Regions from separate parts of the Homo sapiens genome. Here region 1 is linked to region 2. Evidence: fine-mapped expression QTL. A gene starts in region 2. The other region holds a variant in brackets. All regions are shown on one strand. Distances are between the middles of the regions.

Evidence for each region. PIP is the estimated chance that this variant, and not a neighbour inherited with it, causes the effect.
Region 1: its variant is the best candidate, but not a certain one, in a credible set for the expression of MAU2 in whole blood (TOPMed, PIP 0.77).

The regions. Positions count from the first base shown.
Region 1 is chr19:19,342,665-19,347,885 of GRCh38, reverse strand. It overlaps MAU2 (MAU2 sister chromatid cohesion factor), which reads right to left. Exons shown (of 19, transcript NM_015329.4): 8 at 5,205-5,221; 9 at 5,020-5,110; 10 at 3,946-4,049; 11 at 2,960-3,037; 12 at 2,517-2,582; 13 at 520-606. Among named protein-coding and RNA genes, the nearest start is that of MAU2, 24 kb to the right of the region's middle. RefSeq lists silencers at 4,962-5,101, 5,142-5,221. The variant G/A (reference allele first, on the strand shown) is at 2,431.
Region 2 is chr19:19,317,946-19,323,422 of GRCh38, reverse strand. MAU2 (MAU2 sister chromatid cohesion factor) reads right to left here and starts at 2,594. Exons shown (of 19, transcript NM_015329.4): 1 at 2,288-2,594. The coding sequence starts at 2,563. It overlaps SUGP1 (SURP and G-patch domain containing 1), which reads left to right and starts at 2,914. Exons shown (of 14, transcript NM_172231.4): 1 at 2,914-2,960. The coding sequence starts at 2,927. RefSeq lists a silencer at 2,214-2,435 and enhancers at 1,807-2,778, 2,487-2,976, 2,997-3,046.

The sequences.
Region 1 (5,221 bases), 25 kb before region 2:
TGAGTGGGGATCCCAGGGCTAAAAGGGACAGAAGAGGGAACCTAACTCTTATGCAAGCATTGGTTCAGAAGCGCCACGTGAGGGCAACCCTGGGCATCCCCACCCAACACTGCAGCCAGTGAGTGCCCCTGATCCTGCAGGGGCATCAGCACAACCTGGGGACAAGGTGCTCTGGCTGCTGCCCCTTAGGACTGAGCCTCAATGCCTGGCCGACATCCTAGAGCAGACAGCTTGGGCTATAAGACCTTGTCTGTGTGATTCATACAGCTTGGTTTGTTTGTGATAAAGAGAAGTGTTCTGTGGCTATGGGAATGTTTTTGTCCCAGACCTGGCCTCCCCCGGCCATAGCCCGATTCACCTCTGGGTCGCCTTGTGTGTCTGTGTCGGGTGCCGCCCATCCCTCAAAAGGTGAACACCCTGGGGTCTGCTGAGATGTGCTGGTGCCCAGGACAACCCCCTGGTTCCCCAAAAAGAAGAGAACAGAGAGAAAGGATACCGAACATGAAGCATGTCACCTACTACCTCTTGGTGTCTATTTCCTTCCCGTATATACACACTCGCCAGGTTGGTGACGATGAAGGCCCACAGCTCCTGGTGGTTGGTGAGCTGGAATGGGAGGCGGGGACATTAGGGGGCTGGGTCGGGTGCTGTGACCCATGTGGCAGTGTCAGAGCACCCACAATCTCCACGGAGACTACTTTGGAAAAGACTTGTTCTTTTCATTTCAAACACACTTGTTTTGCCTCCTAAGCTCAAGGATAACACAGCTATTACTTCTTCTCATTATAAAACCATCATCTGCGTTACGGGGCAGTTAGAGAACACAGAAGAGGAAAACCAGCCACCCCAATCCTACCCTCAGAACATGTCGGGTTTTGGTCCATTTTCCACTGTCTCTCAGGACTGAGACCTGGTGGACCCTTCCTCCAGGCCACAGCCAGCAACCTGTGGGACCCAGGTGTCCACTGCCATCAAGGCATATGCTGGTCCTAGGCGGGGGTCACTCTTCATAGGGGGAAGTGGGGAAGAGGGGAGCTGTTGTCCCACAGGGGGCCAGCACAGGCCCCGCTCCAGGTAGGTGATGCTGTGTCAGAGACCAGAAATGCTGCTGATGACAGGTGGTGGATGGGCCATGGTCCCTGGCTCTTCTTGGCAAATGAGATCGTTCGTCAAGAGAGGGTCCAATCTATGTAGCTCAAGCCCTGCTCAGACCCTGGTTCCCAGTGGGGCTGGGCAAGAGGTGGAGTGAGCCCAGGAAGCACAGACCCCACCTGCACAGATCCCCTCCTGGCACACACCCAGGAGGCCCAGAGGATCTTCCGAATCAAGCACAGATGCTCTGAGACGTAGCAAGGTGGGAGATGTTTGTTTCAGGGCCACAGGAGGCGTGTGTGTTTGGGGTTAGGGGTGTTGGGGTTGCATCCTGGCTCCATCACTCCTGGGTGGGCCATGAAAAAGAGGCTCTCTTTTGGCCTCGGGGTGAGGACTCCTTAGGGTACATGGCCTTGGGAACTTTGACGCGGAACCAAACCAGCAATAGCAACCACTTGTGGGGAGTGAGACGGAGACGGAGATGGCAGGATGGCAGGGCCACGAGGAGGGTCCTGGCCCTGCTGCAGTCAGAGTGAGCCAGGGTCCTGGGAGCGAGGTGAGGAGGCAGAGGAGTGGGTGCTGAGTCAGCCCTTCCCTCCCAAGCATGCTGTCTGCATGTCAGGGCTCCTGTGCATCTCTGAGGCCAGTGGCGGGGGTGGCAGCACCCACAGGCCTGCGGGGTGCCGTGGAATGGGAACCCTGTCCAACAGTCAGGGCGCACACAGGACTCCCTGGTGACCTTGCCCGAGTGGCAGACAGAGCAGCCTCTGCTCCCTGACACCTCTCCTCAGGGCCCTTCCTGGCACCACCAGGAAAAAGGTGTCCACAGCCTCCATTTCCTGTGAGGAGGTTGAGGCTGAGGTGGGGACACAATGGTCCAGCCCTGGGCTGGGGCGCTCCGTGAGGATGTGGCACCAGCCTTCTTCCAGGGCCTGGCGGGGCCCCCGTCTAAGGCCAGGAGCCTGGGGTGCTGCTTCACCCTCTCCGGCCCAGCAGGACCAAGAGTCCTCCTCTGTCCAAAGAGCACCTGGGAGATGGCCCAGCTCCACCACTCCCCATGGGAGCCCTGAACCCAGGATGGCTCTGAGTTGTCAGCTGACACTTGAGCCAATCCAGCCTTGGGGGTGGGTGCCGCAAAAGTTCCCACTCAGGCATGAAAGTGGTGTCCCCGGACGCGTCGCACCTCTCCCTCACGTCTGCCCTTGGGTCAGCTCAGGAAGCCCCTGGCCCCATAGCTGTCCCTTATCCAGATAAACAGCGCGTCACTGCCAAGGCTGGCATGGGCTGACTACTGTGCATTGCCTCTGGGGCTGCGGCTTTGCATAGCTGACCTAGCGC[G/A]ACTGCTGTCCTCATCACAGACCACGCCCGACTCCTTACTCAGAAGTGTGGCCCGCCCCGAGCAGCAAGGAGGGCCGGCACCTTACCCGCAGGGCCGTGGTGAACTGGGCTTCCGCGTTGTCCATGCAGTTGACAGAGACACAGTACAGGCCCTGGAAGAAGGTGGTGTTGTCATCAGGGCCGGCCCCTGGGGAGGGGGCTCAGATCAGAGACACGTGGTGTGCCCGGGGCCTGCACGGCTGCCCTGGAGGAGTATGACAATGGCTCTACCGAGCCAGCTGCAAGGCAGGTAATATGCTCACTGTCCCCACCTTTCAGACCCAAGCCAATGTGGGGTGGGACAAGATGCTCACTGGGAGCATTCCGGATCGTGCCTGGGAAGGTTATATGATTACCTATGGGAACATTCCGGATTCTGATTAGGGTGCTGTCAGGGGGTCCTTCACTGGGAATGTTCTGGATCTGGTTAGGTACTTACTTACTGAGAACATTCTGGATTCTCCCGGGGTGTTGTCACAGGGTTACTCACCAGCAATGTGTGCAGCTGTGCTGCATGGTTGGAGAAGAGCCGGGGGGACTGCTGGCACAGCTGGCAGACCTGGGAGATCTGCCGGGAGAGAGTGTACTGCCATCACAGGACTGCAACCTGGGACCTGGCGTCTGAGCAGCAATGGAGAGACCCCATAGCTGGTGGGTGAGCCCATGTCCTGTCTGACCAAACTGGGGTACAAAGCCCCAGCAGACACGTCCACCATGAGGGCAAAGGGCAGCCCAGATCCCATCGTGGACAGGGACCCTTGTCTGTTACTCGTCTCTTCCACTCTGTCCAACAGGTGTCTGGGTTGTAAAGGACCTCCAGCCTACTGAGGGCCCCCATGCCCTCTCAGGAGGGTGGGTACTGGGGGTAGAGTGTTCCTAATGGCAGGGTGGGGTATAACAATCACTGTCAAAGGACCCCCCAAATCCCCAGAGACCATGTGCGCTATCCCCTTGGTGTGCAAGCTTTTGGGCCATGGCCCATTAGTTTTTTGGGTTTTTTTTTTTGAGATGGAGTCTCACTCTGTTGCCCAGGTTGGAGTGCAGTAGTGCGATCTCGGCTCACTGCAACCTCTGCCTCCTGGGTTCAGGCTATTCTCCTGCCTCAGCCTCTCAAGTAACTGGGATTACAGGTGTCTGCCACCACACCTGGCTAATTTTTATATTTTTAGTAGAGGCGGGGTTTCGCCATGTTGGCCAGGCTGGTCTCAAACTCCTGGCCTCAAGTGATCCACCCGCCTCGGCCTCCCAAACTGCTGGGATGACAGGCGTGAGCCACTGCGCCCGGCCTCCACTGGTTTTTGTATGAGATTCTCTGATCAGTGGTGCCCATGCAGGGCTGTAAAACGCTGGCCGACAGCGAGACAGCAGGATGGGCTGGCCTGCCAGTATGCACTTGGCGAATTCAGTCTCTTGTCTGACACTGCTGAGACCCAACAAACTCCTGGGCCTTCCCGCCCCTCCTGCTTCCAGCCTTACCTCCTGCAGCGCCGTGGCCTTGTGACCCGTGACAAGGCGGCACATGATGATGTGCTCCAGCAGGATCACTTGGAAGGATGACAGGATGGGGCTGCAGTCCAGCACTATGGGTGAGAGTCAGGGGTAAGCATGCAGGGGAGGCCAGAGGAGGCGCCACCCCCAGCCCACCGTGCCCCCACCTCGTTCCTGTCTCCTGCCACACTGGCTAGGCACCCACCCCGTCATCTCCCCTAGTCCCCACTGCACCCTCTGAGTGAAGGAGTGTGTCTTGCTGTCCAGGTGGGGAGACGGAGCTGGAGCCAGAGGTTGGTTCCCACAGTGCTCCAAGAAGGGTTGGCTCTCACCCTCACCCTCACCCTACGTGCTCAAGAGCTTGTGGACATGGCAGGTTCTAGAAATGTAGAAATGTGGAAACCACCCTGGATCATGACACCATGCAGCAGAGCCTCAGGCAGTCGGGTAGGGGGACCTGGGCTGGGCCCCACCTCCCAACAGCCCCAAGCAACCATCCTCATATGGGAATAAGAGAAGCACAGGGCCTATCCGGCTTTGGGCTGCCTTGGCTCTGATGCCTTCTCCCCCAGCAGCACTCACGAGGGAGCAAACAGACCGACTAATGGGCACACTATACCAGCCAGGGACGTCTGCTCTGGGTTTGTGCTAGTCAAAGGTCCCTGGATGGATTAGACACTTGAGCATCTGGAAAGAACTCACGACCTCCAAAGGACATGCTGGTGGTCAGTGAGGGCTGAGTTCTGATCCTGGCCTCATCCCGAGTGTCCCTGTCACAACACTGATAATAATTGGGAAAAGCAGCTACCACCTGTTTCAACTGAGCATGACTGGGCACAAGGGACCTGACCAGTCAGGGAGGTACCCCCGACCCCAGGCCTGTCTGCTCTGCTCTGACGTTGGACACCAGCATTTATCAACTAGGGGTGACGAGACCCACCAGGCAGGGTGGCTGGGCGCTGCGGTCACACAGGGTCACTGGGCCCTGGTACAGCTAGCGTCTGGCCAGGCCGTCCGCCAGGGGTCGCTGTGGCCATGTGGCCAGCCGAGCACCTGACTTACTCTTGAGCTTCTCCAGCTGCATGAGGGCCTTGTCCGTGTACTTCTGCGCCTTCTCCAGGTAGCCGGCCTGCATGGAGTGCATCACAGTCACCTAGCGACAAGACCAGACAGCAGGGGTTACCAGGGCCCTCTCCCTCTCCCTGCCCCCGCCCCCAGCCCTGGCCCGGGCCCTGGTGGGGACGCACCAGGTAGACAAGCACAC
Region 2 (5,477 bases):
CAGGAGTTCGAAACCAGCCTGACCAAATGGTGAAACTCTGTCTCTACTAAAAATACAAAAATTAGCCAGATGATGTGGTGCAAGCCTGTAATCCCAGCTACTCGGGAGGCTGAGGCAAGAGAATTGCTTGAACCCACGAGACGGAAGTTGCAGTGAGCCAAGACCGCGCCACTGCACTCCAGCCTGGTGACAAAGCGAGAATCTGTCTCAAAAAAAAAAGAAAAAAAATTATCTGGGGCTGGGCGCAGTGGCTCATGCCTGTAATCTCAGCACTTTGGGAGGCCGAGGGGAGTGGATCACAAGGTCAGGAGTTCAAGACCAGCCTGGCCAATACTGTGAACCCGTCTCTACTAAAAATACAAAAATTAGCTGGGTGTGGTGGCGCACACCTGTAGTCCCAGCTACTCGGGAGGCTGAGGCAGGAGAATCACTTGAACCCGGGAGACGGAGGTTGCAGTGGGCTGAGATCCTGCCATTGCGCTACAGCCCCGGCAACAAGAGCGAAACTCCGTCTCAAAATAAACAAATAAATAAAATAAAATAAAATAAAGTCTCCTTCCAACTTTTCAGTCTGTGAAACAAAGATTTGATCTATTCCTCAAGGCAAGTTGTTACTAGCTGAGGGTGGGCTTGGATTTACCTCAGATTAATGAGTTTTTAAAATCTGAGTTGATTCTTTTCAATAATTTTCTATTCAAGCAGGACAGAGCTGGGTAAAAGGTAAAAGGGAGGCAGGGGTCTGACAGGATCACAGCGCTGCTGTGAGAAAAAAACGACTCCACAGCCTGAAATTTTATTATTTTTTCCTTATTATCTTTTTTTTCTGAGACAGGGTTTCACTGTCACCAAGGCTGGAGTGAAGTGGCGTGATCACTGCTCACTGCAGCCACGACCTCCCGGGGCTTAGCTGATCCTCCCACCTCAGCCTCTGGAGTAGATGGGACTACAGGCCCGCGTCAGTACGCCCAGCTAGTTTTTGTATTTTTTGTAGAGACGGGATCTCACTGTGTTGCCCAGGCTGGTCTCAAACTCCTGGGGTCTAGTAATCTGTCTGCCTCCGCCTCCCAAAATACTGGGATTACAGACATAAGCCACTGAGCCTGGCCCTAGAAAGTTTATTAAAGGGGCCGGGCGCGGTGGCTCAAGCCTGTAATCCCAGCACTGTGGGAGGCCGAGGTGGGCAGATCATGAGGTCAGGAGATGGAGACCACCCTGGCTAACACGGTGAAACCCCATCTCTACTAAAAAATACAAAAAATTAGGCAGGCGTGGTGGCGGGCGCCTGTAGTCTCAGCTACTCAGGAGGCTGAGGCAGGAGAATGGCCTGAACCCGGGAGGCGGAACTTGCAGTGAGCCAAGATGGCACCACTGCACTCCAGCCTGGGTGACAGAGCAAGACTCCGTCTCAAAAAAAAAAAAAAAAAGAAAGTTTACTAAAGGGCAGAATGACAGCCACTCTCCCGCATTCTTTGAGGCACCAAGATGACACAAATCAAGTTGGGTCAGGGGAGGGACTCACTCTGACGGAAGAGGATGGACTGATGGATGGTAGAAGTCACCAGTGGATGGAGAAAAAGCAGGAGCTGCTTTTAGTTCCCCTAATACTGAAACTGAACAGCGGGGCCTGGAATCCAGAACCCCTGTTTCTCCTCCTCATAGGCCTCAAATGACCAACTCCAGACTCCGGGTCTCAGCTTCCCTCGTACGACACCAGGCATTATTGATGGGGGCACAAGACCCTCCAAAAACCACGATTACCAAACTTCTGTGTCCAAGGAGAATCATGCCCTTCCAGGTTCCTGAGAGACCAGACTTCAGATTCCCGGGAGAATGCCAGGGGTCTCGCCTTCGCCAACCCCTACCCCAAGTCACTTTAGGTGGAAGCGTTTGGGGCTGATGCTCCGGAAGCTGAACCAGGAGGAGCTAATAGCTTCAGGACCCTGTGATGTCCCCATCGCCACCAACAGGTGGGATCCTCCTGAAAACCAGACGATTTGCGGATCCTGTTGCTCCCAATAACAGGCAACTTTCAGAGTACGGTGACGGGGCTCCTGGAGCCCTGTCACCAGAAACGGGAAATAAGGCGTGGGGGGCGAGGCTTTCGTGTCCCTTGAGAGGCTGGTGGCTTTGGGGTCCGGCAGAGGCGGGTGGGGGTCCTGCGGCTTTGACGGAGGTCGCGCCCCCAGGTCGCCGAGGAGCGGCCCCCCACCCGCCGCGGTCGCGACCCGTCAGCCCAGATCTTGCAAGGAGCCCGCGACTCCTCCCTCGCGGCCCGGCCCGCGCTCACCGCCTTCTCCAGGTGGCTGCGCGCCTGCTCGCTGTTCTTGGTGTGGTGATAGAGAACGGAGCCCAGCTGCAGGTGTGTACGGGCCTCGATGCGCTGCGGCGGCTTGAAGGGGAACACGGCCTGCAGGCAGTGCACGCACAGGCGGATTTTGGGCGGGCTGGAAGTGCGGAAGTGCTCAGCGAAGCCCAGAAGCGCCAGGTACCACGAGTCGGCCGCCTCGGCCTGCGCAGCCTGGGCCGCCGCCGCCTGGGCCGCTGCCGCCGCCTGAGCCGCCATTTTGGCCTCCACAACAACAAGCCGCCGCCACAGGGAGGCGGAAGCAGGCGCGCGAGACGGGGCCGGGCTCTCCTCGCGGCTTCCGCGAGATCTGCCGCCCAAAGCATCCTGGAACATGTAGTTTGTATTTGGGATGACTGCCGCTCCGGGAAGGTGTAAAAGGGCGACGCCGTTTGGTTATCGTGACTGGGACTTAGGCATCGCTGATAGGCTGAGGCTTCCGTTTCTGGAGGTTAAAAAAAAAAAAACCCAGTCGTTCACGCAGTAATAGGGCGAGTCTGACCGAGGCGGACTACATCTCCCATCAGGCGATGCACACTATAACAGGGCCCCTTAAGGGGCGCCGGAGCATTGTGGGATTGGATGAGTCTCAAGATGGACAACCGGGATGTTGCAGGTAACAGCCCCCGCCTCCTCTCAGGCGGCCGCCTGGGTCCCTGGGGCTAGGTGTCTCCCCTGACTCCTCGGGTCCGTCCTGCTGCGACCCGTGGATCCCTCGCTTCAGCCCCGGGGCAGCCCACAGCGTCGGCTTCTGCACCTCTTGGTTTCTCGAGACCCCAGACCCAGGTTGCTGGCCGCCCCCGCTTGGTTTGCTGAGGACGCACGGATCTCCGTAGAGGCCGCCACCCGGCTCGGCCCTGCGTCCCGTTTCCGAAACAACCGCCTTCAGGGCTGCTCCAACCTCCGTTCCCCAATACGGCGACAACCTTGGGCTGTCCCTGCACCCCTCTTTTCGTCGCAGCTGGCCTCTGGCCTGTGTCCCGCTTTCTGGAAAAGCTGCTTTTCCGAAGTGCTTTGAGGCTCCCTTGACACACTTTCCCGCGTCTTTTGACCCTCACTTTGCTGCAAGCCTTGGCCTTTCTGCTTCCCCAGAATAGAATGCATTTACCCATCAGCAGATACTTAGGGCGTGCTCACTGTGTGCCAAGCAGTGTGCTGGGCGCTACGCATGCAGCGGTGACCGAAACAGGGCCCTGCCTTCCTGGAGGTTGCTTTCTACTGGGGTGTCAGTGCATTAATGAGAAAATATTTACAAAAACTTACGTATGATGTGAGGTTACGTATGATATGATCAGAGTGGAGGCTTCTGATATTGGGTAGTCAGGAAAGACCTTTTCTTTCTTTCTTTCTTTTTTTTTTTTTTTTTTTTTTTGAGACAGGGTCTCACTTTGTCGCCCAGGCTGTAGTGCAGTGGCTCACTGTGGCTCCCTGGGTTCAGGTGATCCTCCCACCTCAGCCTCCCTAGTAGCTGAGACCACAGATGCGCGCCACCACACAGCGAATTTGTGTGTTTTTTGTGTTGCCACGTTTCCCATGCAGGTCTGGAATTCCTAGGCTCAAGCGATCCTCCCATCTCAGCCTCTTAAAGTGCTGGGGTTACGTAAAGGTGTGAGCCACCACACCTGGCCCAGGGAAAGGCCTTTTCAAGCAGAGGACATTTGAGTTAAGACAATGAATGCCAGCTATGGGAATCCCTGGAGGGTGGAGCCTTCCACACAGAGGGGGGCCAGTAAATGCAGAGGCCCTGGTAGGATGGGCTTGTCCTTTTGAAGAATGTCAAGGATGAAGCAGAAGGGAGGGGAACCATCTGGCGGGGCCTTGAAAATGGCCTTTTAGAATTCTTTTTTTCTTTTTGTTGAAGCGGAGTTTCGCTCTGTCGCCCAGGCTGGAGTGCAGTGGCACGATGTCGGCTGACTGCAACCTCTACCTCCCGGGTTCAAGCCATTCTTCTGCCTCAGCCTCCTGAGTAGCTGGGATTACAGGCGCCGGCCACCGCACCTGGCCAGTGTTTTTGTGTATTTTTAGTAGAGACGGGGTATCACCATGTTGGCCAGGCTGGTCTCGATCTCCTGACCTCAAGTGATCTGCCTGCTTCAGCCTCCCAGGTGCTGGGATTACAGGTGTGAGTCACCATGCCCGGCTCAGACTTTTAAAATTTGGATTTTATTCTGAGTCCCATGGGGAACCTCTGAGGTGTCTTCCCTGTCTCCATACTATCACCCTAGTCTGAAGACATCATTGTCTGTTGCTTGGAGCCAGTGAGCCTCCCTGGTCTTGTTGCCTGTGGATTCTCTGGCCAGAATGATTACCTAGTAGCCAGGATGAAAATAAAACGACCCTGTGGATATTGGCTAGGTGTGGTGATCCATGCCTAAAATCTCAGCATTTTGGGAGGCTTAAATGGGAGGCTCCCTTGAGGACAGGAGTTCAAGATTAGCCTGGGGAACATAGCAAGAACCTGTCTCTACAAAAAATAAAAGAAAATAGCTAGGCCTGGTAGAGTGTGCCTGTAGTCCTAGCCACTCGGGTGGCTGAGGTGGGAGAATCTCTAGAGCCCAGGAGTTTGAGGATGCAGTGAGCTACGATCATGCAACTGCACTCCTGCCTGGGCAACTCAGCGAGACCCTGTCTCAAAAAAACAAAACAAAACAAAAAAAACGGCTGGGTGTGGTGGCTCACGCCTGTAATCCCAGCACTTTGGGAGGCTGAGGTGGGTGGATCACTTGAGGTCAGGAATTCGAGACCAGCCTGGCCAACATGGTGAAGCCCCATCTCTACTAAAAATATGAAAAAATTAGCCAGGCATGGCGGCAGATGCCTGTAGTCCCAGATACTCGGGAGGCTGAGGCAGGAGAATCGCTGGAACTCTGGAGGTGGAGATTGCAGTGAGCCAAGATCGCGCCATTGCACTCCAGCCTGGGGGAAAAGAGCAATACTTCATCTCAAAAAAAAAAAAAAAAAAAAAGAAGGCTGGGTTCGGTGGCTCACGCCTGTAATTCCAGCGCTTTGAGAGGCGTAAATTGGAGGTTCCCTTGAGGACGGGAGTTCGAGACCAGCCTGGACAACATGGCGAAATCCTAACTGTACTAAAAATATAAAAATTAGCCAGGTGTGGTGGCTCACGCCTGTAATC